4 linked regions of the Homo sapiens genome follow. The protein of the gene in region 2 interacts with the protein of the main gene of each other region in a pairwise test. Each region holds a gene or a part of one and is shown on either strand. Other genes may lie near its edges. The genes, in order: ITSN1, CYTH1, cystathionine beta-synthase and CYTIP.

Evidence for each region.
Region 1: the proteins of CYTH1 (region 2) and ITSN1 interact in a two-hybrid assay, tested with the Homo sapiens proteins (2 studies listed by BioGRID and IntAct).
Region 3: the proteins of CYTH1 (region 2) and cystathionine beta-synthase interact in binary tests that used the Homo sapiens proteins (3 or more experiments, as listed by UniProt).
Region 4: the proteins of CYTH1 (region 2) and CYTIP interact in binary tests that used the Homo sapiens proteins (3 or more experiments, as listed by UniProt).

The regions. Positions count from the first base shown.
Region 1 is NC_000021.9:33,771,480-33,778,501, reverse strand, and holds part of ITSN1 (intersectin-1), read right to left. Parts: intron 6,442-7,022; coding exon 6,179-6,441; intron 3,774-6,178; coding exon 3,624-3,773; intron 3,535-3,623; coding exon 3,394-3,534; intron 1-3,393. UniProt on the Homo sapiens protein: Adapter protein that provides a link between the endocytic membrane traffic and the actin assembly machinery. Acts as a guanine nucleotide exchange factor (GEF) for CDC42, and thereby stimulates actin nucleation mediated by WASL and the ARP2/3 complex.
Region 2 is NC_000017.11:78,779,254-78,786,848, reverse strand, and holds the start of CYTH1 (cytohesin-1), read left to right. Parts: upstream 1-4,575; 5' UTR 4,576-4,625; coding exon 4,626-4,647; exon of another isoform or gene 4,648-4,793; intron 4,794-7,595. UniProt on the Homo sapiens protein: Promotes guanine-nucleotide exchange on ARF1, ARF5 and ARF6. Promotes the activation of ARF factors through replacement of GDP with GTP.
Region 3 is NC_000021.9:6,457,495-6,464,516, forward strand, and holds part of cystathionine beta-synthase, read right to left. Parts: intron 6,386-7,022; 5' UTR 6,378-6,385; coding exon 6,169-6,377; intron 2,800-6,168; coding exon 2,693-2,799; intron 2,539-2,692; exon of another isoform or gene 2,241-2,538; coding exon of another isoform or gene 1,962-2,240; intron 797-1,961; coding exon of another isoform or gene 709-796; intron 562-708; coding exon 427-561; intron 1-426. UniProt on the Homo sapiens protein: Hydro-lyase catalyzing the first step of the transsulfuration pathway, where the hydroxyl group of L-serine is displaced by L-homocysteine in a beta-replacement reaction to form L-cystathionine, the precursor of L-cysteine.
Region 4 is NC_000002.12:157,441,069-157,448,677, forward strand, and holds the start of CYTIP (cytohesin-interacting protein), read right to left. Parts: upstream 3,022-7,609; 5' UTR 2,953-3,021; coding exon 2,779-2,952; intron 24-2,778; exon of another isoform or gene 1-23. UniProt on the Homo sapiens protein: By its binding to cytohesin-1 (CYTH1), it modifies activation of ARFs by CYTH1 and its precise function may be to sequester CYTH1 in the cytoplasm.

The sequences.
Region 1 (7,022 bases), on a different chromosome or scaffold from region 2:
ATAATCAAAACAGATTCAAGGAGAAGAAGAAAATCAGAATAGCCCTATATCTGCATAATGAATTTTATAATTAAGTCTTCAAGAAAGCTCCAGGCCCAGAGGCCTTCACTGGTGAATGCCACCAAAATTTAAAGAAGAAATGCTATTTCAACACAAACACTTTTAGAAAATAGAGGAGGAAGGAATATTTTCCAACTCATTTTCTGAGGCCAGCATTACCCTGATATCAAAACTAGACAAGAATATTAGAAGAACACTAAAAACCAATATCTCTGTTGAATTGAATTCAACAGATTTAAAAAGATCCTTAATAAAATAATGGGAAATGGAATGTAGTGAAATATTTTAATAAAGGGTAATATACCATGACCAAGAGTGGTTTATCCCAAGAATGGAAGGCTGATTTAACATTCAAATGGCAACCATGTACTTCATCATATTAACAAAATAAGAAAGAAAAAACACATACTTATCTCAATAGATGCGGGGAAAAAACATATGATCTATTTCAACACCCATTCATCATAAAAACCCTCAGCAAAAGGAGAAGTCCATCAACCTGATAAAAGGTGTTTACAAGAACCCTGGTTAACACTATACTCTATGGTGAGAGAGCTTTCCTTCATCGAGAGGGAACAAGGCTCTTCCCACTTCTATCCAATATAGTATGGGAGGTTCTGGTCAACAAAGTAAGACACACAAAGGAAGTTAGTTAAGCAATCACAGATATAAGGTCAATATACAAAAATAAATTCTATTTCCATATACTGGCACCAAACAACTGGAAACTAAAATAAAAATATGCAATATACAATAGCATCAAAAGCCACAAAATACTTAGGGATAAACTTTACAAAGTATCTACAAGACTTGGACACTGCAAACTACAAAACATTGCTGAGAGAAATTTATAACTACCAAAATAGAGATTTATGCCATAGATTTACTATTGCTGAGATGTCAAATCTTCCCAAATTGATTTATAAATTCAATGGAATTCCAACAAAATTCCAAGCATTTTTGTAAAAACTGATAAGCTGATTCTAAAATGTACATGGAAATGTTAAGGACCTGGAATAACCAAAAACAATTCTAAAAAGAACAATAACAGAGAATTCGTATCACTTGACTTCAAAAATTAGGTATCAACAGGGTGAGGTACTGGTAAAGGACAGACAGATCAAAAGAACAGAATAGAGTCCAGAATAGACCATTACAAATATGTTCAACTGATTTTCAACAAGCTACCAAGGTAACTCAATGGGAAAAAAGCCAGTGTTTTTAATAAATGGTGCTATAACAACTGTGTATCAGTATGTAAAAATATAAACCTCAACCTTTACCTTATACTATCTGCAAAAATCAACTTGAAATAGCTCATAGACCTAAACATATAAGATACAACTATGAAACTTAAAATTTTAAGTTTTTTTCAATTTATAAAAACTTGTAAAAATTATTTTTTTAAGCCCCAAAAACTTCTAGAAGAAAATAAAATATTTGCAGTCATGGGGTAGTCAAAGATTTCTCAGATAGAACATAAAAAGCATGAACACCAAAAGAAAAAAAACGGTAAACTGAACTTCATCAAAATTTAAAACTTCTGCCCTTTAAAAAATACCACTAACAAAAATTAAACCCAAGCCAGATTGGGAGAAAATATTTGCAAAACACGTATCTGACAAAGGACTTGTTAAGAATATAAAAAGAACTTTTACAAGTAAATAGTAAGACAAACAGCCCAATAAAAAATGGGCAAAAGATTTGTTCAGACACTTCAACGAAGATGCACAGTAAAAAATACTCGCCAATAAACATGTAAGATGATTCCCAACATCATTAGCCTTCAGGGAAATACAAATTAAATGATCAGAATGTAAAATGGTACAAACTCTTTGCAGTTTGTCAGTTCTCTTTCTTTCCTTTCTCTTTTCTCTCTCTTTTTTTTTTTTTTTTTGAACAGGGTCTCATTCTGTGGCCCAGGCAGTCAGTGGCTCAATCATAGCTCACTGCAGCCTCGATATCGTGGGCTCAAGTGGTCTTCCTGCCTCAGGCAGGTACTACAGGTGAACGCCCCCATGCCAGCTAATTTTTAAGTTTTTTTTTTTTTTTTTTAGAGATGGGGTCTTGCTATGTTTCCCAGGCTGGTCTCAAACTCCTGAGCTCAAGCAATCCTCTTACCTTGCCCTCTCAAAGTATTGGGTTTACAGGTGTGACCCACTGTGCCCAGCCTGACAGTTTCTTATGGGGTTAAATATACACTTACATGACACAGTAGTTCCATTCCTAAAAGTTTACCCAAGAGAAATAAACCATTTCCACATAAAGACTTGTACATAAATGCTCACTGCAGTTTTATTCATAAAAGTTCCACACTGGAAAGAACCTGAATATCAACCAGTAGGTGAATGGACACATAAGGAAACACTACTCAGTGATGAAAAGAAACAAAAGAGTCATTCACTCAGTAACATGGACACATCTCAAAAACATCATGCTGAGAAAAAGCCTAACATAAAGGAATCACAGGCAAATATGATCATCCACAGGCAATATTTACATGAATTTGATGCCCCTGTAGTTCAGCACTTGATACCAAACCAGGTGATATTATAACAACTTTGGATAGGCTTTAAAATGAAGACAGAACTACTAAAAGTGCTCTGTATGTCTCCAACTATTTAGTATACATATAGCTCTCATATGACCCCCTAAAATACTTAAGTGTACTTATTTATTGTAATTACCACAGTAAAGCCAAAGTCCTGTTGGTGGACTACAGGTTCTGTGTGATCCAGCTCCCACCTGCTCTACCCAGTAGTCTCCTTGCTGTAACTGGCATCTCAGAGTCCTGCTACGACCTCAGGACTTTGGCACTATTTCCCTGCCTAGATCTTGCTCTGCCAGATACCCACATGGCTTAGCCTGTCATTAATTTCAAGTCTCTGCTCAAATGTCACCATCCAGAAAGACCTGTCTTGGCTACCTTAGTTAAAATCACAACATTTCCTATCCCTAGGACTCTCTATTCCCTTCCCTACTCACTCTCCATAGCACTTTTCATCTTCTAATACAGTACACACTTTATTTTGTTAGTCTCTGTTCCTCCTGCAAACAGAGGGTAAGCTCCCAGAAGACAGAGTGTCTGTCCCTGCTGTAGCCTCAGAAACTGCAAAAGCACCTGGCCCGAAGCAGTGCTCAGTAAATATTTGCTGAGTTTGTCTCCTTGACAGGCTACTTTTCACACAAGGACCCTGTCTACTTCATTTTTGCTTCCCAGTGCCTAGTACAAGACAGTTGCTTAATGTTTACTGAATAAGTAAGTAAATGAAATGAATTAGAGAAAAGGATGCCAGTTTAATATAATAGCTTTTAAGAGGCATATTTCCTCACCTGTAATTGTTGCTGTAGATGGGTGATTTCGGCAATTCTCAACTCTCTAGATTTGTTTGTGCTCTCAATTTCTTGCCTTTGGGTGGTCAATCGACATCTGATATCTTGAAGTTTCCCTTCTAGTTGATGCTTTTTATCATTCTTGAACAAATGAAAGATAATAAAAATTATTACTGTTTTTAATGGTTCCATCTTAGTATATTTTCAAAGTATAACCAAACTTCACTCACTAGAGCTTCTAATTCAAATTCCAAAGTCTTTTTCTTTGCTTTCAGTACAACTATGTCCTCTTGTTCTTTGTTTCTTTGATTTAGTAGTTCTTGCCTTCGATTCCGTTCCCACTCAAGTTGTCGTTGCCTTTCAAGTTCCCGTTTTGCAGCCTGTGACATTTACAGAGACAAATTACTAATTTTTCAGTTCTTACACTACACAATGTCTTTTCACAAAAATGGCATCTAGGAAGTCTTTCCTTTTAGGGATGAAATATTAAACATTACAAGAAATCACATTAGAAAACAAAAAATTACATAAAAATACAGTATTCCTTCTATGGGAATAAAGGGAATACACAGAACTGGGTATTATATTTACATAATACTATATTTACGTAAGATGACAGGATTATTTCCCCATTAGAATTCCATTCTTTATGCCTTCAAGAATGCTTGATGTGCTAACTAAAAATGCTCCTTCTTATTTACTGACACGCCAAGAAGGAAAATTTATGTAGTAAAATCAAACTAAAACACCCCTGAACAAAAACAAACAAGAGTTGATTTTACTCCACCAAAAGAGAAATTATTACTTAACTCGTTTTAAAAGTCTGCGACTCCCCACTTCCTAATCATTCATTTCCTTTTTACCACAAAAGCTTTTGCTCCCTCCAACGACTGGCTCTGACGACTGCTAGATAGAGTACATATCAGAGCATCTGACAGTCTATGGGAATTGCCTCTGACTCATGGGTCATCCAACTACACCTGATACATGGTAAATGTCTATTAAATAATTCTGAATAAATACTCTAGAATATCATTTTTTTGGTACGTTGAAGAAAAGTTTGCCTATCTTTGTTCATTCTGAAAATTAAAATTTTGTTAGTGTCTGTCTGAACAAAAAGGAGTTACGGGGCCGGGCGCAGTGGCTCACGCTTGTAATCCTAGCACTTTGGTAGGCCGAGGCAGGCGGATCACCTGAGGTCAGGAGTTCGAGACCAGCCTGGGCAACATGGCGAAACCCTGTCTCTACTAAAAATACAAAAATCAGCCAGGCATGGTGGCTCACGCCTGTAATCCCAGCTACTCCGGAGGCTGAGGCAGGTGAATCACTTGAACCCAGGAGGTGAAGGCTGCAGTGAACTGAGATCGTGCCACTGCACTCCAGCCTGGGCAACAGAGCGAGAGTCTGTCTCAAAAAAAAAAAAAGGAGTTATGGCTATAAGTTTTGTTTCTTTCTTTTTTTGAGACAGGTTCTTGCTCTGTCACCTAGGCTGGAATGCAGTGGCCTCCAACTACTGGCCTCAAGTGATCATCCCTCCTTAGCCTCCCAAAGTGCTGGGATTACAGGCTTGAGGCACAGCACTCAGGCTATTTTTTTACATCGAAAAATTCCTCATTTTTATCTTTCATTCACATGAAAGAACCATGTGTTGCTTCTGCAGTAATGTACTAAAATTGGAAAGAGAGACAAGATTTGCTTAGCCCCTTTCCAGGTATGGCGCTAAATTTACGAAGCCTTCCATAGAATATAGGGAGGATGTCCCAGACATATTTTTAAAAGAGTTTAAAAAGAAGGTTGCATGGGCCAGGCGCGGTGGCTCATGCCTGTAATCCCAGCACTTTGGGAGGCTGAGGCGGGTGGATCACCCGAGGTCAGGAGCTCGAGATCAGCCTGACCAACATGGTGAAACCTCATCTCTACTAAAAATACAAAATATTAGCTGGGCGTGGTGGCGGGCACCTGTAATCCCAGCTACTCAGGAGACTGAGGCAGGAGAATCGCTTGAACCCAGGAGGCAGAGGTTGCAGTGAGCTGAGATCATGCCACTGCATTCCAGCCTGGAAGTGACAGAGCGAGACTCTGTCTCAAACAAAAAAAAAAAAAAAAAAGAAGATTGCAGAACAATGTAATTGGTATGATACTATTACAGTGGTTTTTAAAAAATTATACAGCCCTTACACTCTCCGCCATATAAACCTTTATATTTTTATATAGGTGTATACAGAGAAAACAGTCTGGAAAAACACTTTACTGGTATCAGTGGTTTGTTACAAAATTGTATCATCAAAAACTTGTACATTAATGTTCATAACATCATTGTTTATAATAGCCACAATGACCATCAACTGCTGAATGAATTAAAAAATGTGGTATACCCATATAACGAAATATTACTCAGCCATAAACAGGAATAAAGGACTGATTCATTTTACAATGTGGATGAACCTTGAAAACATTATGCTAAATGAAAGCCAGAAACAAAAGTCCATATATTGATGATTCCATTTATAAAAAATGTCCTGAATAAGTAAATCTAGAAAGATAGAAAGTAAAATTAATGATAGGAGCTGGAGGGAGAAAGAAATGGGGAGTAGCTGCTTAATGGGTAAAGAGCTGGAGTGATGAAAATGTTCTGGAATTAGGGACGATGGTTGCACAACTTTGGGAATATACTAAAACTACTGAATTGTAAAAAGACAAAGATGGCGTGAATAGATCACTTGGATAATTCTGAAAAGGGGTGATCGCACACTAACTCCGGGTGGCTCCACTCTCGCCTGCTTACCTCTCGCCTCTCAATTTCTTTCCTCCTCTCCTCCTCTCTCTGCCGTTCTAGCTCCCGCTGCTTTTCCAGTTGCTTCTCCAGTTCCAGTTGTCTTTTGCGCTCTTGCTCCTGGCGCTCACGCTCCTTCCTCTCCTGCTCCGCCCGCTCCAGCTGGGCCAGGCGCTCCTGCTCCTTGCGCTGCTGTTCCAGGAGAGCTTGCCTTCGTTTCTCCAGTTCCAGGTTGCCACGTTCAAAGTTCTCCCGCTTCTTATCTTCAAACGTTACTTCAGACAAGGAACACAGCAACTATGAAAACTCAAGATTTTCAACGGACTCTTTTCAAAGGAAAACTCACCAATGTATTTGAAATTTGTAGTACAAACCCAAACCCAGAACTCCCTAAGCTTCTGTGTCCTTGTTAATGAGCACAACGAAAACCCCCTTTGCCTAACCTCTCTGTTTATATCTTCTCCTCCACGCCAAACACTGTTTCTAAAAGATCCTTATCTAGCAGTTCTACATCACCATCCAGACTCCTTTCCTTCCCTGTTACTCCATCCTTTCCCTTCTTCCCATGAGCTTGCCCTAGGAATTAACCCCCTCTCTTCTGGACCATGAGTCTCTGTCTCTCTCCCTCCTTCCCTTTGCCTTGTAACCGTGCTGATGAGTCCTCTATTCTAACAAGATTTCTCAAAGCAGAGTGAAAGGTGAGCATTCGGCTTTTCACACTGAAGAACAAGCTGTGCCCTGATCCCTATGGAGATCACAGTCAGTCAACAATTTTTTCTAACCCATTATTCAGTTTCCTTCTTTAACACATCAATTATAAATTTAGAATGATTACTCAGTTCTATCCTTTTTTTTC
Region 2 (7,595 bases):
CTCAAACTATGGTCTGCTCTCACCTCACAACAATCTTCACAGAAGACTGCTCTGCCCAGAGGCGTGGGGGTTTATCCCCACACACCAAGCAGCAGACACTACCTGGGGGTCCTCTCATCCAGTCCAACTTGGACTCTTATCTGGAGTGAGGTCAGATCTCACAGGCTGAGGGCTCAGTCCCCAAGACTGCATTTGTGACAGCAGTCACAAGCCTGGGCCTCTGGAAGTTCTGAGCGACCACCTTAAACTTGGGATTTCTATGACCCCCGCTCTTTGGGTTTGATTAATTTGTTGGAGCCACTCACAGAACTTAGGGAAACACTTACATTTAGTATTTTGTTTGTTTTTAATTTTTTTGAGACGAAGTCTCGCTCTTGTCCCCCAGTGTGATGGCGCGATCTCAGCTCACTGCAACCTCCACCTCCCGGGTTCAAGCGATTCTCCTGCCTCAGCCCCCCGAGTAGCTGGGATTACAGGCACCCGCCACCAAGCCCGGCTAATTTTGGTATTTTTAGTAGAGACGGGGTTTCACTATGTTGGCCAGGCTGGTCTCGAACTCCTGACCTCAGGTGATACAACAGCCTCCCAAAGTGCTGGGATTATAGGCATGAGCCACCACGCCTGGCCATTTAGTGGTTTATTATAAAGGATATTGCAAAGGATAAAGATGAAGAGATGGGGAAGGGCCCTTGCACAGAGCTTCCAAGCCCTCCCTAGGCATCACCCTCCAGGAACCTCCACATGTTCAGCTATCCTAGCCCAGTCTTTTTTTTTTTTTTTTTTTAATGGAAATTTTTATGGAAGCTTCCTTCCATAGGGCACAGGGCAGGACCCTCTCTGGGGAGGGTCTTAAGACCCACAATCAGAAAGGTGGGCAAGATTAAAGTCCTGCCTTGGGGCAGGTGAAAGAACAAGAGAAGGCCAGAGAGATTGTTTCCTGAGGCCTAAACCAACATTATAACAAAAGACTGTAACAAGAGCTAAGGGAGGTATGTGCCAGGAACAGTGGAAAATACCAGAGGGTGGCCAGGAGCAGGCTCATGCCTGTAATCCTAGCACTTTGGGAGACTAAGGTGGGTGGATCACTTGAGCCCAGGATTTCACAACCAGCCTGGACAACATGGAAAGACCCTGTCTCTAAAATAAATAAATAAATAAAATATTAGCTGGGTGTGGTGGCGTGCAACTGTAGTCCCAGCTACTTGGGAGGCTGAAGTGGGAAGATCGATGGAGTCTGGGAGGTGGAGTCTGCAGTGAGCCATGAGCCACTGCACTCCAGCCTGGCCAACAGAGTGAGACCCTGTCTCAAAAACAAAACCAAACCAAAAACTGTCAAATACCGCAGGGAGCTACCAACTTAAAAAAATTAGTTGTCAAGTGGATCAACCACTAAGGACTTAGAAACCACAGCGAAACTTGCAGAGAGCCCACACCCAGTTTAAAGGTTCTGTGAAGAATTAGTGGATGTGGGGGAAGAGGTCTGGGTTAGAATCCACAGCTGGAGTGGAGTCCTGTGGTTCCTGTCTCCCTGCCGCCGGCTCCTTCTCATTACGCTCCAAGGGCTGGGGGCACAAATACAAGATACGAGAGTGAAACTGACTTAACTCCTGCTTGCAAGTAGGCTGCATTTGGATGTCTATTAGCCTCGGCTTCCAAATGTCATGCAAAGATAACAGCTAAAGGACCTCTCTGGCTGGGCGCAGTGGCTCACGCCTGTAATCCCAGTGCTTTGAGAGGCAGAGGTGGGCGGATCACCTGAGGTCAGGATGTCAAGACCAGCCTGGCCAACATGGCGAAACCCTGTCTCTACTAAAAACACAAAAATTAGCTGGGCTTGGTGGCACATGGTGGTAATCCCAGCTACGTGGAGGCTGCAGTGAGCCGAGATGTGCAACTGCACTCCAGCCTGGATGACACAGTAAGACCCTATCTCAAAAAAAAAAAAAAAAATCTCTGATCATGAATGTGATCTAATGGAGTAGCTTCTGTGTTTCTTTGACAGTCATCCATGGTCAGGGATAGCCCTACCCAGTGGACACATGCATGCATTCATTTGCAACCAGAACAAACACTGTCTCTGTATTATGTGTGATAGACTACAATTTTTTAAAAATTCTATTTTCTTTTCATCTAATAAGTATTTGTTTCATAACCATTAAGAGTCATGACCCGCTGTTTGAAAAACACTGTTCTTTTTTTTTTTTTTGGAAACAGGGTCTCACTCTGTCCCCCAGGCTGGAGCACAGTGGTGCAATCATAGCTTACTGAAGCCTCAACTTCCCAGGCCCAGAGGATCCCTCCCACTTCAGCTTCCAGAGTGGCTAGGACTACAGGCGTGTGCCGCTATGCTCGACAATTTTTAATTTTTTGTAGAGACAGGGTCTCTCTATGTTACTCGCGCTGGTCTTGAACTCCTGCCCTGAAGCAGTTTTCCTAGCTTGGCCTCCCAAAGTACTGGGGTTATAGGCATGAACCACTTCACCCAGCTGAAAAACACCAGTCTAATGGAACAATATAAGGGAACAGAATTTGTAAACAGTCATGTTCTCTGCTAATCTGTGATTAGCAGTAATACCAGTATCCCTCCCTCTCCAAATCTATTCAGTTGGTGAGTTCAGCTAAGAGGTCTAGAGTGCTGATAGTAAGAATTAACATGCCATCTGAATCGCTTTTCTTCTGGAGTTCTGGTCTTTGAGCAAGAGCTGAGGTGGTCTGGGACTTGCATACTGATAAGGGAAGAAAGCCAGCTCGAAGATACCTTGAACCTTCTGGTGAGTCTGGGGTTAGAAGTGAAGTAGGGAGTGAAACAGAGGATGGCAAATACTGGGGGAGAGGCTCAGTGCTCCATTAGCCCATGTGACAGATGGTTTGAGAAGATTTGCCAGGTCAATGTGGGGTCAATTCTAAAAGTGTCCTAAGTCTAGGCCAAGAGGAACAAAATGCAGCTGGGTCTCTGACCTCACACGCCGAAGCCCAAGGACACGTTAGGGCCAAAATGTGACTCTCTAAGGTCACCTGTAAAACTGGACAATCTGGTAAAGTCAGTGAAGGTTAAGATCATGAATCCAGCCAGGCGTGGTGGCTCACGCCTGTAATTCCAGTACTTTGGGAGGCCAAGGAAGGAGACCAAAGAGAAAGGATCACTTGAGCCTAGGAGTTCGAGACCAGCCTGGGCAACCTAGCAACCTCCGTCTCTACAAAAAATACAAAAATTAACCAGGTATGGTGGCCGGTGCCTGCAGTCTCAGCTACTCAGGAGGCTGAGGTGGGAGAACTGCTTGAGCCTGGGAAGCAGAGGTTGCAGGGAGTCATGATGGTGCCACCGTACTCTAGCCTGAGCAACACAGCGAGTGAGACTCTGTCTCAAAATGAATAAATAAATAAAAGAAAAAGAAAAATAGTAAAACTCAGGACAGGTGGGCCCACAAGGAAAGAGTTCTGTGGCTTTTACTCCCGTTTTTTGGTTGGTCCAAAAAATTCCCAGCAGTCCAGGGATCTCTGTGGAGTTCTCAGTGAGTGTTCTGTGTAGGGTGCAGGAGCCACAAGTGACTGCAGGGGGAAAGGGGGGTTCTGGTGCTGGCATTCTGCAGCAGTGGGATTGTCCTCTGTCATAAAGAAAGAGAAGGCCGAGCGCGGTGGCTCATACCTGTAATCCCAGCACTTTGGGAGGCCGAGGCAGGCGGATTATTTGAGGTCAGGAGTTCGAGACCAGCCTGGCCAACATGGCGAAACCCCGTCTCTACTAAAAATACAATTAGTCGGGCCTGGTGGCACATGCCTGTAATCACAGCTACTCAGGAGGCTGAGGCAGGACAATCGCTTGAACCCGGGAGGCGGAGGTTTCAGTGAGCCGAGATCGGGCCACTGCACTCCAGCCTGGGCAACAAGAGCGAAACTCGTCTCCAATAAATAAATAAAATCCAAAACGCTGGGACTTGAAGTGCCCTCCTTTCAATCTTGACCCAGGTAAAACTCAGGACAAATAAAAAGAAGTAGAAGCAGTAAACTTAGGACATACAGCATGTAAAGGTTCTGAACGCAGGAGTAAATGACTTCAAATAGCTTTTGTGGCCTTTCGCCAAGGACCGGGCCCTCCCTGGCAAGCTGGGGCCGGGTCTGACCTTCCAGGTTGGCGTCAGCAAGGACCACCCTGCCCTTCAGTGGCCGGACACGACCTTGGGCTTTCGTGCAGTAGCCTGGCTGCAGGCCAGGTCGAGTCCGCCACCCCGGGGACTTGCACCGCCCTTCAGAAACCGAAACCTGCTCGGCCCCAGGAGGCGGACCGGGAGAAGGGGGGGGGGTGTGTGTGTCTCGGGACGGGGGCGTGGTCTAGAGGCGGGGGCAGGGGAGGAGCCTCGGGTGGACGCGCGTGCGCAGGCCGGAGCCTCGGGAGGAGGCCGGGTACCCGGGGTGCGGCGCGCGCGGGAGGAAGGCGGGGCCTCGGGCGAGGGGCGGGGCCTCGGGCCGGGGGCAGGGGGCGGGCGCAGGCGCAGGCGCGGGCGGGCGGGGCGCGGGGCGCGGGGCGCCGGGGGCGGGGCTCCGAGCCGGGCTGAGGCGAGCGGGGGCGCGGGTGGCGCGGCGGGACGCGAGCGGCGAGCCGGAGCGCGGAGCCCGGCTCCCGCACCATGGAGGAGGACGACAGCTACGGTCAGTGCGCCCCGGCGGCGGACGCTTCCCCCTCGCTGTCCCCCAGTCCCCTCCGGGCCCGGCCGTCCGGCAGCGCTTGCGGCGGCTGGCGTTTCCCGGGGACACTGGTGCGGGACGCGGAGCCCGGGGCGACCGGCGGGCGAGCGGTGCGCGGGGCCCTCGCGGGGCGGGGGTCGCAGGGGGTTTTGAGGGATGAGGGTCGCCGGGGCCGGGGTCGCTGGCGGCGCTGAGGGATGTGGGTGGCTGGGGCGGGGGTCACAGGCCGGGCTCGCGGTCTCGCGGGGCCAGGGGTCGCCGCGAGCTCTGAGGAATGAGGGTCGTTGGGGTCGCGGGGCAGGATCTCAGGGGCTCTGAGGGATGAGAGTCGTTGGGGTCGCTGGGGTCCCCGGGGCAGGGGTCGCAGTCCGGGTCCCGGGGGGCCGAGGGGTGGAGGTCGCTGGCCCTGCCGCCCCTCTGCGGGGCTCGGGGCGGACGCGCGGATGGCCGGGCCCGCGTTCCCCGCAGTTTCCGGCCGCTCTCGGCGTCAGCGAGTTGTGCCCGGTCCACGTCTTTGTTCAGAAATGAGAACGGGGAGCGGCGCCGCCGGCGAGGCGCGGGCTCCGGGACGGCCCTGCCCGCGGGAGTCTGGGCCCGGTAGCCGCCGGTCCGGTGCGTCGCCGCCTGCCGAGACGCGGGTGTGGAGCCCGAGGGGCACCGCGGTGGGGACGCCGCTCCTCCCCTGACTGGGGACTTGGCAAGCGGAGCCGCTGTCCCGCTCCCTTCGCTCCCGCGCGTTGAGGCTGCTGGCCCAGGCCAGGGGTGCCTCCCTCCAAGAGTTTGAAATTGCAAGGGTTGCAAAAGGTTGTTTGACATGCTGTAGTTAATTTATTAAGTTTGTTCATGAGGAATTAAAAGGAAGAATGGCAAATAGAACAAGTGGTGAACTTTTGTGGTTTGGTAGCAAAGTACAAATAAAGCAGAACTCTGTGGCCAAATGGAACCCAATTCTAGTTTAATAACTAATGGGACATTTTTCTTTTTTTTTTTTTTTTAAGAGACGAGATCTCGCTCTGTCACCCAGGCTGGAGCACAGTGGCGTGATCGTAGCTCACGTCAGCCTCTTGAGTGGCTGGAACCATACGCACGCCACCATGCCCGGCTAATTTTTTATTTTATTTTATTTTATTATTTTATTTTATTTTATTTTATTTTTGAAACGGAGTCTCACTCTGTCGCCCAGGCTGTAGTGCAGTGGCGCCATCTCGGCTCACTGCAACCTCGGCCTCCTGGGTGAGCTGAGCGATTCTCCTGCCTCAGGCTCCTGAGTAGCTGGGACTACAGGCGCGTGCCACCACGCCTGTCTAATTGTTGTATTTTTAGTAGAGACAGGGTTTTGCCATGTTGGCCAGGCTGGTCTTGAACTTCTGACCTCAGGTGATCCACCCGCCTCGGCCTCCCAAAGTGCTGGGATTACAGGCATGAGCCACCGCGCCCAGCCCTAATTTTTTACTTTTTTAAAAGATGGGGTCTTGCCATGTTACCCAGGCTGGTCTTGAACTCCTAGACCCAAGCAGTCCTCCCACCTCTGCCTCGCACAGTGTTGGGATTACAGGCCTGAGCCACCACACCCAGCCCACTTGTTACCTTATAAGTAAACAAGTAAAAGCAGCTTGTGCATTTTTTTGTTGTTTGTTTTGTTGTGTTTTTGAGACAGGGTCTAGCTCTCTTGCGCAGGCTGGAGTGCAGGGGCGCTCTCATAGCTCACTGCACGCTCTGCTTCCTTGGCTCAAGCAATCCTCTCACCTCTCTTCTCAGCCCCTCCTGTAACCTGGACTACAGGCCTGGGCTACCACGCCCTGCTAATTATTTTTATTTCTTTTTGTAGAGAGGGAGGTCTCCCTATGTTGCCTAGGCTGGTGTGAACTCCAGTTCCTATCTTGGCCTCCCAAAGTGTTGGGATTACAGGCATGAGCCACTGCTCCCAGCCTCCTTTTGTGATTAAAAGAAAAATCACCCACTGGCTGGCCCCAAAAGATTGTTCAGCCCCTCCAGATTTCACTCCTGCCCACTGCTGAGAAGCCGACAGCAGTTTTGCCTGCTGCTCTTTTCTCTGCCTCCTCTTGCCATTTAATTTCCCTCAGATCCCAGTGTCCTGCCTACCAGGCTTTTGTGGCCTCTCTTGTGTTCTTGCCTGCTGCCGTGGGCAGGAAGCTATTGGTCTGGTTGCTTTTAATACAGTGACTGCTTTGCCACCAGGCATGACATGAACTTGTACTTGAAAGAGGTAAGTGGAAGCAGGGCGTGTTAGTTTCCTATACCTGTTATATTACCACAAGCCTGGTGGCTCAAAACAACATAACATTTGTTTTAGGGTTCTGCTGTCAGAAGTCCAAAATAGGTCTCACTGGGCTAAAGCCAAGGTGTCGGACAGGCTGGTTCTTTCTGGAGGCTCAGGGGAGAACCCATTTCCTTACCTTTTCCAGCTTCTAGAGGCCACCTGTGTTCCATGGTTCATAGTCCCCTTTCCATCTTCAAAGCCAGCAGGTAGCATCTTCTCATTTCTCTCGACCTCCTACCTCCCTCTTATTAAGATCCTTGTGATTATAGTGGGACCCACCTGGATAATCAAGGCTAAGGATTAGCAACCTTAATTCCATCTGTTACCTTAATTCCCCTTCTGCCATGTAAGGTAACCTATTCACAAGTTCTGGGGATTAGTACCCGGACTTCTTTAGGGGCTGTTATTCTGTCTGCCACACACGAAGATGAGAAAGTTTGTAAGTTTATTCTTCCCCTTTCTTTTTTTTTTTTTTTTTTTTTTTGAGATGGAGTTTCACTCTTGTTGCCCAGGCTGGAGTGCAATGGCGCAATCTCGGCTCACTGCAACCTCTGCCTCCCAGCTTCAAGCGATTCTCCTGCCTCAGCCTCCTGAGTAGCTGGGATTACAGGCATGCGCCACCACGCCTGGC
Region 3 (7,022 bases), on a different chromosome or scaffold from region 2:
TGGGATTCCAAAATTGCCCAACATGGCTGCTTCTGCCTTCAAGTGCAGGGGGAGAGAGGCTGCCAGAGGCAGAAATAAAAGGTACACGTCAAGGAGGAGGAGGCAGCGGCGCAGGACAGGAGATCTGGTTCCTCCAGGCCCAGCCGGGTACACAGGCACAGGAAGAGCAGACTCCGGGTGCTCGTCTTGTGTGCCAGGCACTGCCAGGTGCCATCGCCCCGAGAGCATCGGCACTGGCCCCGAATGCTGGTCAAAGGAAGCTAGGTTGGGACACAGGCCGGCAGCGGGTGCAAGATGCCAGGGAGCAGGCGGCCAGGCGGGCCAGCACATGCGGCTGCAGCTCATCCATCCCCCCCGGGTCCCGGCAGGCTCGGCATGGGTAGGGGACAGCCAGCCCCGGCCACCCCCTCTGGGCCTGGCACCCACCGGTGTTCCCGGATGTCGGCTCGATAATCGTGTCCCCGGGCTTCAGCGTCCCGTCGCGCTCAGCATCCTCAATCATCCGCAGGCTGATGCGGTCCTTCACGCTCCCGCCCGCGTTGAAGAACTCACACTTGGCCACTGGGAGGCAGAGATGAATCACAGAGGGGACCCCCTGACCACCCCCCCATTGATTCCTGCTCACCCCCCCATTACCTGATACACCCCAGGGTGGGGGACGGGCTTGGGGGTCTGTGGGTTCTGAAAAATTGCCACCTCTCCACTCACCTCCCCTACACCTGCACCTGGGCACTAGCCTATCAGAGCTTCTCCCCCTGCAGCCCATCCTACCGGTCCTGCAGGGCGCTGAGCAACTCTGTGGGAACCAGAGAGGCATAAGCAGCCCTCACTGGGGGGCGCCGCAGAAAACCCCGTCCCCCCACCCACGAGCTGGGCTTGTGGCGGGCAGGCGCCTGGATTTGGGTCCCCTACGCCCCTATGCCCAGCCATACCCAGCGGCCCCTGCCAAAGCAGCTTGATGTCCTGAAGCCACAGCACTGGCTTCCCCATCGGATGGGGACTCGCATACTCTCCCTACAGCCTCCCATTGTCCTCCTTCCCCTGTGGGGCGTCACCTGCCCGGGGAAGGGCTCCCTGCGCAGTTCCCGCACAAGGCCAAGGCCTTCACTTGCACTTCCTTCCTTACTGCAAGTCCTCTCTCCCTCTCCAGCTCTTAAAAATATTTAGTTTTTAAGAGCGAGAGAATGGGCTGCATGAAATGTGATTTGAGGGACCTGGGACCAGCCTGCAGCACCTCAAAATTTCTGAAAGCAACCACCAGACAGGTGTTGCCCCTAGAACCAGGACGAGGCGCTGTGTGTGGTGGGGAGGACTCTCGGGGTCTGGCCCTCTACAGGCCTGCATTCTCGGACCCCTCTGGGTCCCATACTGTGAAACCCTCAGTTAGATCATTCTCACTAGCGCCTGGGGGCCAGCTCCGAAGCAGAAATCAGAGCTGGTGGCCTCCGGCAAGCCACGTGACCAACCTGACCCTCGGTGTGTCTGTCTGTAAAACGGGCATTCCAAAACCTACTTCAAGGGCAACCGCCAAGTTTAGACGTCATCCTGTACGGAGCACAGTGAGCCAGCCACGCGTGCTGCGTACGAGTTAAGGGTCCCTATTGTCTGACAAATGAGCACAGAGCCGGCCCTGCTGCCTTGGGGGTCTCTGTGAAGGGGGCTGCTCTGCTGCAGCTCCGAGATCTCCTTCCCTAGAGGGGGGCAGAGGAGGGCCAGGCTCCCACGAGGCCCCTCCTGTGAATCGGCGATCGGTTCCCAACGCACCGACCCCTGACTTCCTTCCCCCAGCGCCTGCCCCAGCTCTCACAGGTCCCCCGGCTGGGACATTAGAGCATCTCAGGATGAAAAAGTCCCAAGCCATGTTACTGGTTCCCTCTCCTTCCCACTCGAACTCCACCCCCTCCATCTGGCCCTGTCGCGGGGTTCTCCGCGGCACCCTTCCTGCCTCCCTCCGAACTCACTTGACCTTGGTCATCTGAAATACGAAATTCCGTCCCCGCCTTGTCCCCAAGGCCTCTGCACCCACAGCTTTCTCTGTGACGATGCTGAGGTCTACCAGGGCTCTGCGCTCTTGGTGAAGAGCGACCCTTAGGAATTCCCTCCACGCTCTTGAGCCTGGAAACTGCGTCCTGCAAAGAAATGCCCTTCCCCGGAGGCCTCAGACCACACCTCAGGTGACCCCCTGCGCACCCAGGACGAGGCCAGCCACAGACCCTCCAAATTCCCATTCTCTGTCTCATAAATGATGAGCTGAACTATCTGTCCCCACGAAGCTGGCAAGACAGAGGTAACCGCTCCCTGGACAGCGGGTGGCTCACAGCACGTGCTAGGACCCGTCCACTGCTCCTTAGCAGGCATGACGCTAACCCTCCCCACCTGCTTGCTTCTGCCTTTGACCCTCACCCGGCCCTTCACACCCTCGCTGCTTCCACTCCGGCCTCAGTTCAAAGGTCACCTGTTCGTTCCCTTGTCCATCTGCTGGGGAGTCACTTTGGTCACCCTCTGACACAATGCCCTGTTGTGTGTTTTTCCCAAACTTAAGCTGATATGTTCTTGGCCACTCATTAACCAGCGAGTTTTCTGATCCCAGGGCCTTGCCTAAGGGATCCATCCCAGGACCCCCCAGGACCCCCCAGGCCCACGGAGCCCAGTGTAGATGGAGGAAGCCCCTCTCCAAAGCCAGGGCACTCACAGAGCTCACACTTCAGGCCGAACTTCTTCCCAATCTTGTTGATTCTGACCATAGGGGTGTCCCCGATTTTCTTCAGAATATCTGGCAAGATTTTTGGAGATTTTGCCCTGAAACAGAGGAGTCCACAATTATTCAGGAAAAAAAAAAAAAAATAGTACCAGCCCTGGCAGACATTGTCTTACACAAATCAACACTCGAAGAACTGGAAAAAAAAAAAAAAAAAAAAAAAGAACTGGCTTTATCTGGGTGGTGGTTACACAAATCTGTACACAGATACACCTAACACACATCCCACACACACGCCTGAAACACACATACACACACATGCTTAGACATACAAATCTATAAAAAGCAAATCATGCCTGTGGTTTATTTGCACCAATGCCAGCTTCCCAGGTTTGAAAATGAACCTACAGTCGTGGCAGATGTTGTTAGTGGGAAGCTGGGAGAAGGGTACAAAGGATCTATTATTTTTGCCACTTATTGTGAGTAGTAAATTATTTCCAAATAAAAAAGTTAAAATAAGCAAATACTGACTCCAAAACAAAGGTTTAGGTCCACCTTTTCAGAAAGGCTTTACTGGAGATGACATTTCCTTTCATCTCTCAGCATGTGACCATAGGAAGCAAAAAAGTGTCAGGGCAGAGACTCCTTAGACCAGGGACAATGGCTGCAAAGCGCAGGCGGGATGTCTAGCCCTGCACAGAAAATGTCAGGCACGTGGCAGACTCAGAGCCCCGGCAGAGGCGCTGTCGGCCAGGCTCGTGATGCCCTGCCCTGCAGCATCTGGCTGTGTAAACCCTCAAACCCTGGTCCAGGTGGTTTCCTAAATGGCCCTCATGCCCCTGCCATCCTCCCCCAGGGAGATGCTGATGACACCCCCTATCTATCTGCACCAAGCTCACCACATACTCATCTGGGAACACGCATGGCTTACAGCGGTCTCCAGACCCGCAACCCCTCCCTGGGCCTTGCAGCTCCGATGACACCCCGTGGCTAACCCTGGGCCCCCTCTTCAGCACAGTCACCTGCTGAACAGCCAGGGTCCTTGGGTCCTGCCCCCCAGGAGGCGACCCTTAGACCTGGGGTGAACCCAGCTCCCAGAGGTCCTGTGCCATGGAGGGAGTGCCACATTTGCAGGGAGAGCTACCCTGAAGGCCAAAACAGGCGCCAACAAGAGCAGCTGGAATCCAATCGCACCCTTCCCGGGGAGCAGAAGGCAGTCCTGCCAGGTCCCCAAACTGTACAGGGGCCAGGGAGGTTCCCTCAGAAGCAGTTCTCGGCAGAAGGGAACCAGGCTTGGCAGGTGTAGAGAGCCAGGGCCAGGTGGAAAGCCAAGCCCCAGGGTGACAGCGCCGGGGATTAGTTCATTAATTCAGTTCGGGCATCTGGCCAGCCAGGCGGGAAGAGTCCCGCCTCCCTGCAGCAGGTGTGCTGACTCAGCACTGGGCCTCGGTGGCTGTGAAGTTACCTGAGAAGTTTGCAGAGGTGATCAGGGCCAGGCCCAGAGCGCTTAGCAAGAAAAAGGATGTGACTTGCAGGGATAGCCCTGGAGCCCCTTATCTCAAGGACTCCCACTTCCACAGCCCAAGAGTCTCCTGGGAGGACACGCCACTGTCCTAGAATGAACCTCCAACTCCTGACCCACCTCTGCAGCACCTCCCCGCAACGCCACTATTCTCAGGGGCCCTCCGACTGGAGACAAGCGGCGTCGGCTCTGCGTCTCAGGATGGGGGTGTCTTCGGAGGATGAATGAGGCCAGTATGTGAGGTGCAGGTGCAACGCCATTTACAACCTGGAGGGCATCGTCTCCTTCTCATGCCCTAGAGTTAGGAGCTCACGGAGCCCTCAGGAATCGGGCCTGTCTTCCCTGCCCACTCCACCCTCCAGCAGCCACTCCCGACCTCACCGGGCCTCTCACCCACTGCTCTCTTGGGTTTGTCTTGGCAGCAAGAGCCCATCCTCCTGGCTGCCCACACATCTGCTTGGCCTCCTGAGCTCCCAGCACTGAGTATGTTTGACACTCAGACCTTCTGGGTTTGTCCACTGTCACTTCTTTCTTTCTATTGCTGCACTGAGAGTACACCCAGCCACCCCCACCCATTCTGAACTGTAAATCAACAACCATAAACGCTGGTAGTGGTGGACACAAAATAGGAATCATAATCCCAGCACTTTGGGAGGCCGAGGCGAGTGGATCAACTGAGGTCAGGAGTTCAAGACCAGCCTGGACAACATGGTGAAACCCCATCTCTATTAAAAGCATAAAAATCCACCGGGCGTGCTGGCACATGCCTGTAATCCCAGCTACTAGGGAGGCTGAGGTAGGAGAATCGCTTCCCGGGAGGCAGAAGTTGCAGTGAGCTGAGATCGCGCCACTGCACTCCAGCCTGGGTGACAGCGAGACTCTGTCTCAAAAAAAAAAAAAAAAAAAAAAGGAATCAAACATCTAAGAAGCACATTCTTTGATCTATTTGTTCTCCTCCAAGATTACACTAAGGAAATAAAGATAATCCTAAGGCTTAGTGAGCTTGATTTCAGTTTCATGCTGGGGTAGGGATTTTTGTTGATTTGTCTTTTCCACTGATAGATCTTCTGCGCCTTGAGCAGGGCACGAAATGCACATGGCGCTGAGGAAAGACTTGTTGGCTAAATGAATGTGTCGTATCTTCTATTGCAGTTATGTAAAATGAGGTAACTGCAAACATCTATCTACCCCGTAGAGGGCTTACAAAATGATGGCTTCTTCACCGAACAGTCTGTGCCACCAGAAAAACAGCCCTTATGGAAAAATATGTAATGCCTACGGGAAGTCTTCATGACCTAGAGTTAACGGAAAAGTGCAGGCTGGGCCGGGCGCGGTGGCTCACACCTGTAATCCCAACACTTGTGGGAGGCCAAGGCAGGCGGATCACTTGAACCTAGGCATTCAAGACCAGCCTGGGTGAAACCCCATCTCCTAAAAATACAAAAATCAGCTGGGTGTGATGGTGGGCACCCATAGTCCCAGCTACTTGGGAGGCTGAGGTGGGAGGATCCCTTAACTGGGGGAGATTGAGGCTGCAGTAAGCCATGATTGCACCACTGCACTCCAGCTCGTGTCTCAAAAAAATAAAAAATAAATAAATAAGAGAGCGCAGGCAGGATCCTGGTCCCTCACCTCCAGTGAATGTGCACACGCAGCCACAGACCGGGCAAAGCATGTGACCTGGGCACATTTATTTATTTATTCTGGAACTACTTGCTGAGCATCCACTGTCTTGCCAGGCACTGGCCTAGGCGCTGGGCTGCAGCGTAAGGAGGCCTTGGCCTCTCAGAGCCTCATCTACACGGCATGGCCCCACCCCCAGCTCCTCAATCCAGAGTGACTACAGGGGGTTACACCTCATGTCCTCCTGGCTGTGTGGTGTCCAGGTAACAAACTCCTGCCCTCCAGGTTATGGATCAGCCCTCTTGTGATCAAAAGCAGGACTTACGGGGCAGTGTGGTGATGTGGGGACTCGGAGGCAGGCCGGCCCAGCTGCCAGGTGCACCTGCTCGGAGCATCGGGCCGGATCCACAGGGGCTCCTTGGCTTCCTTATCCTCTGGGGACCCCTTCTCCAGGCTCCCCTTCGCCGAGTGTGGCCCTGAGCGGTGGGGGCAGCCTGTGGGCCCCACTTCTGCCTGGGGGGTCTCAGAAGGCATGCTGGGACCTGGCAAAGCAAGGAGAGAGGCGTCGGTTCAGGCTCGGATGCTGTGGGGTTCCAGCGAACCCTGCTGACCCGGCCCCCTCTGGGAGGCGTGCTCTGCTCCCTCAGAGAAGCCCAGGAAGAACTGCACAAAAACACAGGCACCAGCCCTGTGGGCAGCCGCTTGGCCATTTCTCTCCTATAGGCATATACCAAAAAAAATGGAAGCAGACAGTTGCTTGGGCCGGGTGCGGTGGCTCACGCCTCTCATCCCAGCACTTCGGGAGGCTGAGGCAGGAGGACCACTTGAGTCCACGAGGTCAAGACCAGCCTGGGCTCCAGCCCCATCTCTATTTAAAAAATAAAACAACAACAACAAAACAGATGCTTGCACACCCATGCTCACTGCTGCACTATTCACAAGTCAAAACGTGGAGGCAGCCCACGTATCCGCAGACGGATGAACACACACAGTAGGCTCATACACACACTAGAATATTACTCAGCCCTAAGAGAAATGAATTCTGGCACACGCTACAACACGGACGAACCTTCAGGACATTATGCCAAGCGAAATGAGCCAGACACAAAAGGACAAATACTGTGTGATTCCACTTCCACGATGAGGCACCTGGGACTCTCGAACGCCCCTCTATGTCTG
Region 4 (7,609 bases), on a different chromosome or scaffold from region 2:
ACACCCAATTGATTCTGAAGACTAATAATTTGAAACTACAAGCTAACCAGATATAGCTTTGCAGAAACCAAAGCCAACAACAACAAGAAGTATGAGCTGTTGACGTCAGCCCTGAAAGTGTTGAAAATAACAGTAGGCAGAGAAACACCTGCTCATGTGATTGCCTCACAAGGATCTTGTTGCCTGCAATTTAGTCAGTGCCAAATGGGTGATTATTCTCTAAAAACCAGTTAAAGGAAATGAACATCCATTTGGAAGATTGTGAAATGTTGGGATAAACTTGCATCAAGTCTCATTGATGATAATTGTACGGAATCAGAACTATCATGTACAAGAAGTTTTGTTTTGCTATTTTTTAAAGCAATTCTCACAACAGTAAGAAAAAGCTGTTTGAATATGGAAAGTCTACCACATGAAAGAATTTGAGAGAAGGGGAATGAGAAGACCTAGAAAAGATGAGAACATCTGCATAAATTAATTAGTATGGGGATGTGTGTGTGCCTGTGTGCATATGTGTACATGTATATATGCACATACACACACACACACACACACACACACACACACACACGTGTATTTCATATGCCAAAATCCCTCTCTTTATCCTCCTCTGATAATCAGCCTCTCCTACTGATTGCCTTCTTTCAGTTCACGCTATCTTCACTCTGGCTTAAAACCAGATGTGACTCCTCCGTCTTCAGTCCCTTTCATATTAAAGCCTTTCAGTCTCCTTTCTGTTCCCCCATTTCCTCTTTCTCCAACTACTGCAAAAGTTCCTCCCTCACCACTAGTCTCTACTCACTAATCCACTACATTTCTACAATAAGGTTCCTGAAATCCTCTACTTCTCAAACACGTTCAGTGGCCCTCGTGCCGGCTTTTTCAGGGGAAGTTGTCCAAGTGTTCTGTAAAGCAGCCCAGCGCTGAGATCTCCTCTCACCTCCTACACACTAACCAGGTTCTCCTGACACACTTAATATTGTGTTGTTACACAAAAAAGTCCTCCAGGCACCAGGATCTATGCCTCAGCTTCAATTTCTCCCTTGCTCTGGAATACCCTTCAATATCTGGAATACCCTTCAATATCTCGAATATCTATTTCCAAGGCTATATTTACAGATGTTTCACTTCGATGAGAGTATTCATGTTGTTTTACTTTGCAGAAAACCCATTCTTTCTGCTTACTGAATTGTAAACAGTATATGGGTAGGAAACATTCCCTTCTCGTCTTTTTACCTCCTACACTTAGCATGATGTCTGTCTCCTTGTAGGTGCTCAGAAACCATCTGTTGCATTGAATTGCATGGGCTAGAGAGTAGATCAAATGAGTAAGGTTGCAGGTATGGAGGACATAGAGGGTGGAAAGTTCCCACCCTGATTGAAAAAGTACCCACAGTCTCCAGCAAAAAAAAAAAAAAAAATCATAGCCTAATCAAGTGAACCATAGTTGGTGTGATAGTGTCATGGCAAATATAAAGAAAATCTGACTGCTTTATATCTGAAAACTGAAAAAAGATGTCAGCATTTCTCATGTTGCTTTATCTTCAGACAGGTTGTAGATTGATAAAATGTTCATCATTACATTAAACTTTGTATCATAAAAGCACTTTAGATTGAGAACAATCAATAATCCAAATCATGGAAAATTGTGCCCTTATCTTCACTCCGAAAAATACCAAGGAATCAGCTATTATACATCACTGAAAAAAGATCATGTCTCTCCCACTATGCCATACCTCTCTAATCCTGAATTTAGAAGGCTTACGAGAAGCACATGATTGTACATGCAAGACTTAAGCGCAAAAATTCTTGCTCTAGGGCAATTCTAAATATTTTCTGTAGAAATGCTACATCGAAATTCAAATATGTACCTGGGGATTTAGAGCAAGTTGTTTAAAAAAAATCCTGAAGAGGTATTATGGTTAAAAAAAAATTTTTACATGTTAGAAATTGAAGAACGAAAAAATCAAAATAAATTCAGTTAGACATAGATTTTTCCAAATGAGTTTTCATCCCTAGAGACAAACTTTGCAATAAAAATATTAAAATGGCATAATCTAGCATTTAATAAACACACACTGAATGCCAGTCACTGTGTTAGGCACTGCACAGTTCCTTATTTAACCAACATAAGAACCCAATAAGGGTGGTTCTATTATTAACTCCATTTTAGAAAAAACAAAACTGAAGCTTAGAGAGGCAAGTGGCTTGCTCAAGATCCCACAGACACTAAGTGGTGAGCTGATATTCAATCTGGCACTCATCTATCCAAAAAAAAAAAATCTTACTTTCCAATAGCCTGAGGTATGTGCCAGCAACCCAGAGCTGAAGATAATTAGTCAACAAAATTTGTCCTCAGAAAAAGTATTTCTTATTTGATTATGAACTGAAATGACCATCAAGGACTGCAAGTAAGGATGGAAGGGAAAGAATCAGTGGAGACACAATGGGGAAAAGAGAATTAATTCTCATACTGGTTGTATCTATATAAACCATCTTCAAGTTTTTTATGCTTAATGATGTTTATTTTACCTGAGCACTTCTTCAAATAAGAAAAACAATCTTAATTTTTGCCTTGAAAAAAAAGTTTGATTGTGGTCTCAAATCTTTGGACTGGTTCACCTAGCTCCCTGAGCATCTCACCTCCTTCACCCATAATAATCAGCCAGTAATTCCAAAGCCTCTAAAATATCACCATTAGTATGAAGTCAGACAAACATATCACTCTGCCCTCAAGAGAATGTGAACACTCTAAAGGGTACAAAATAGCAATCATACCTGCTTTCGTCCCCGAGGCAGAGTAGCCACCGTGTCTGCTAGCATTTGAATCCTTCTATTATCGTCCATCGTAAGGCTGCCGGTGAGTGTGGAGTAAGAGCTATACGCTGGCCCAGCGCAGAAGTCCGCCAAATTGCCATTGCTGCTGTGTTGCAGGAGCCTTTGTAAAGACATTGTGAATAAAGATCACTCCAGCTAGCACATGGTTGAGTGGCCTTGCAGGATGGGGGAAGCTAAAAGTACAACTGTGACAAGTAATCAAAAGTAGCAAAGCAGAAAGAGCCCATGTGACCTCTGTGGTTTGAGGAACTTGTTACACAAACCCTATCTTGCTATTCACTCCCATTTCTCAAAGCTTTTTTTCTTTAAGCTCCTGAGAGAACCTGGAGCTAATTTTTACAATTTAAAGAAAAATCAACTTATTTTTTCACCTCAAACAGCCAGAATTCTTACGCTTTTATGTTCTGTGGCAAGTTGCATTCACACCACCATTTGCCATTTTTTTCTTTAGAGAAGAAAGAAAAATGTCCCCAAGTGCTACCATTTGTTTCCCATCCATTCTCTTACTTAACATTAGCAATGCAATGCAGAAGTCAGCACACGAGGACATTCAGTTCTTGTGAATATGGGCAAGAATTACAGGTGCCGGTCATAATGTTCTCTCTCGAAGTCCTTGTAATACTGTACTTTCCCTGAAGTATACCCTAGATCATTAATGTTCATCAAAAAGACATTATATCTGCCACTGAGGTTGTAACCATTCAGCATTCTTCTGGTTGTCCTTTTACTACTTTGTCCTTACAAAAATTACCCATGATCTTTACAAAGTACAATGGGAAGGGAAAGCCAGCACATTTAGGGCACAATGTTGCCATTTCTTAGACGAGACTTTGCGGCAGCATCAGCAAGTGGTCCCAGGGGAGGAAAGGAGTGGGCAGGAAGGTAACAGGCAAACCAAGGTGGCACCAAGAACATTGCCTGTTGGTCCCTGCATGTGCATATGGGTCAAGGGCACCATCACCAAGTACTCAAGATCACAGATGCTTTTTTTTTTTTTCCTTTGGCTGAGGTTGGGGGCAGGTAGTTTTGAGAGAACTGGTTTCAGTGGAGGAGTAGGGGAGGCAAGTAAAAGGAAGAATCGAAACAAAAGTCAAAAAGAGAAGTTTTATATGGCACAAAAAGTCAAATGTGCTTTTTAAAATCTCTGAAGATCAATACTAGCATTTGAAAGAGTTAGCAAATCTTTGAACTAAAATGAAATGTGTGTGTACTGGAAGTGAAGATGAATTCAACTCAAGTAGAAATTGCCAAATATAAATAGTAAAATCTGAATTAATAGTGCTTCAAAAGTTGAAGCCAATTATAGATTTTAAAAACTCTATCACAGCATGACTCATTATACTGGAATTGAATTTTGACATGGACAAAGTGATATCACCACAAACATATAACGGTCTAAATCAGGAATTAAAAACACATACGTTTTCAGAAGCCAGGTAAGTAACATAAATGTGTAAGGCAAAAGGGAGTGGTAAATACCTTGGCAACTAAAGAATACATCAATTATAAAGATATTCACGTAAAATCTATATTTATAGATATGTACAGATATGTATACAGGTATATGTGGGGTGTGTGTGTGTGTGTGTGTGTGTGTGTGTGTGTATTAGGAAGACAGAGAGAGAGATTGATTTTAAAAACATTTTCAGGCTAAGAGGCACATAAATTAAATCATCACTATTAATGGATGACAGCAGTCCACTGTACCCTAGGAATCTGATAAAGTTAGGTAAATATTTTTAATTTTTATTCTTAATATTTTAAAATGCCAAATGGAAATTATACATTTGCTTAATATAAGGCCACCCACTCAGGCCAACTGACTCACCCATTTTTATAAATGACTACTAAAATTGTACCAATTCATTGTAATACTGACCTTAAGCTGATGTAAATCATAGATCATCATTCAATTAAGAAACTGGAAAATACTTATTACTTAACTCATGAAATGTGTTAAGTAAAATTTTTCAAATAATGGGATACCTGGATACAAAACAAGGGTCAAAAGTACCTCTGACATCCAGCCAGCCCATATCAATGTGGTCACACCTGTTAATTACAAATTTTTGACCTAGTCTATTTTTATTGGTCATTTCCCTGTTCTGTCAGTGCCTGTGTCATGCCAGTCACTAATATCATGATCAAAAGTGTCCCTTGTGATAAAGGGTGGAGAAACAGTAATCTTTTAAGGGGAATGTGACTTCCAAACAACAAATCCTTGACTTACAAAGGTGTTCTACTGTTTAGAACATCTCTTTTCTTTTAGGATTTACCTTAGGAAAATTATAATAGACCAGACTCTCTTCCCCTTCAGCCTCCCATTTATTTTAGAGAGGTGATTCTGGAAATGAATTGGATCAAGCTACCTAGGTACTCAAAAGATTTCAGGAGTATCTCACTGTTCACAAAAAAATAAAATAAAATAAAAATTATTTTATATTATCTGATTTCATTCTCTGAAATGTCATATCATTTTTTTAGATTCTTCTTTTGAGACTTAATATATTCTAGTTAGGGCAATAGTTAATTGTATACAAATCTGTTTCTCTGCTAATGTCCAATTTCCTTGAAAGCAAGGAACATCTTTTATCTTTAAATGTATACTTTATGTCCTACATACAAAAATTGTTCAATAAATGTTAATAAAAAGAGAAAGGTAGATATTAAACAAAATGATTAAACAATAGTGTTCTGTGGTATTAATAAGGAAAAAAATTAATTTGGTAGGAAATGTATGTACTACAAGCCCATATTCCAAAGTGCTACAATTTTCACTAAGGGGTGATCTGAGAGATGAGGACAGAGTCTCTTAAAAATACGTCTCATCTGCCTTTATGCTCTAAAAGCTAATATTTGTTATGTGGGGCAAAGCTCTTATTTGGAACATTTTGTTCATAAATATGCAAATACCCTTGGAAGGAATTAATCTTTAGTACAAATGAGATGAACACTGAGGGCCTACAACATGGAGATTTGGTAGAGTCAGGTGAGAGGAATATACCTAAAGCACGGAACAGAGAAAGAAAGGTGGAAAGGTTTGCAAGACAAACTGAGCCAACCTTACAATCATCCATGAAAATCTTAGGCAGCTGTAAGAGGGTTGACAACAGGGTTCCAGTGTCACACTACTTAGATTCAAGTCCTAGCTCTGCTGCTTTAAAGACTATGGACTGAGTTGTATCCCCCCAAAATTCATACATTAAAGCCCTGAGCTTCAATGTGTCTGTATTTAGAGATAGGGCCTATAAGGAGGTTAATGAATCATTTAAGGTTAAACGAAGTCATAAGGGTAAGGCTCAGATCTGATAAGATTAGTGCCCTCATAGGAAGAGGTGGCAGAGGACTCTCTCTCCACCATATGAGGACACAGCAAGAAGGCAGCCTCCTGCAAGCCAGGAAGAGATCCCTCACCAGGAACTGAATCTGCCAGCACCTCAATCTTGGACTTCCCAGCATCTAAAACTGTGAGAAAATAAATTTCTATTGTTTAAAGCCACCCAGTCTATGGTATTTGTTATGCTATGGTATTGGTTATGGTGGCTTGAACTGACTAATACACTCTCTAAACTTTAGTGTTCACATATCTAAAACAAAAATTTGCAGGAAAAAATAGACAGAATAGCCCATGAATAGCACATGGTATAAAGTAAGCTATATCTACTGAATTTTGCTTTAAGTAACAAGCCTTCAAAAGGAAAAGCTAAAAAAGGATATAACATGAATTCTATATGAATAGCCCTATTCATTACTAAGTGCCTCTATGTGCAGCAAGGATGCCCTTGTCACCCTGAAGAAGTCTAAAGGCTACACAATACATGTGAATTCCTTACCATCGAATATCAAGATGTGTTTGAAAACCATCATCAGAGCCAATGTGTGAAATTTCTGGATTATTGTAAGACACAGAAGAAGAGTAACTGGTTGCTTAAAAAATGAGACTTCCTCTATGCCTTTCTGATCTTAAGATAGCTGTTGAGTTTTTTGTTTGTTTTATTTTTGCTATTTGCCTTTATTTGCACAAGAAGATTTTATCTGGCTTCCTGGAACATCACAGGATTTTGTTTTGTTGTGGTTTGGTTTGCTAATTTGTTTTATTTTGGCCTTTTGCCTTCATTTGGAAGGGAAGTTTTTATTTGGGTCTCTGGAATGATGTAGGAGATGTGTTAAAGTCATATAGACAATATTTGAATATTGTGCCTTTGAATTTATATAAGGTAAATTTGATTTAGTAAAGTTACTCTCATATATGAGGATCCACTAACTGTGAAAACTGCTCTGTCCTATGTATCACCTTATTTGAGTGATGGAGCTGGGTAGACAGATGTCCTCATCCAACTCAGTGTGGATCACTGGAATTATGAACACTACTCCCCAGAGAGTAATAGCCTTCTTCAGAAAAGGATAAACTAAAAATTTGTAACTAGGACAAGCCCTGAAAAATAGGCAGCTCAGGAAAGGAAAATAACAGAAACAAAGGTCATAAAGACCCTATATTAGAAATCCTAGTGTGATATAAGCCAAATATTGGCTTAGAGTTGTGACATGCATATTTAAAACAACACAAAGAAAAACTTTAAACCTAATATAAATAATAGCTAGCAATACATCAAATCTACTATGTTTTTAATACAAGTGCAAGGAAACAATTTTCTGATTTATTCAAGTTTAATTCAATCAAATCATGAAGCTATGGGTAGATTGCAATATCATTCAAGGGATTAAGCCACTAAATTCAATTGGGGCTTTAAATAGATTATCTAGATCAGTG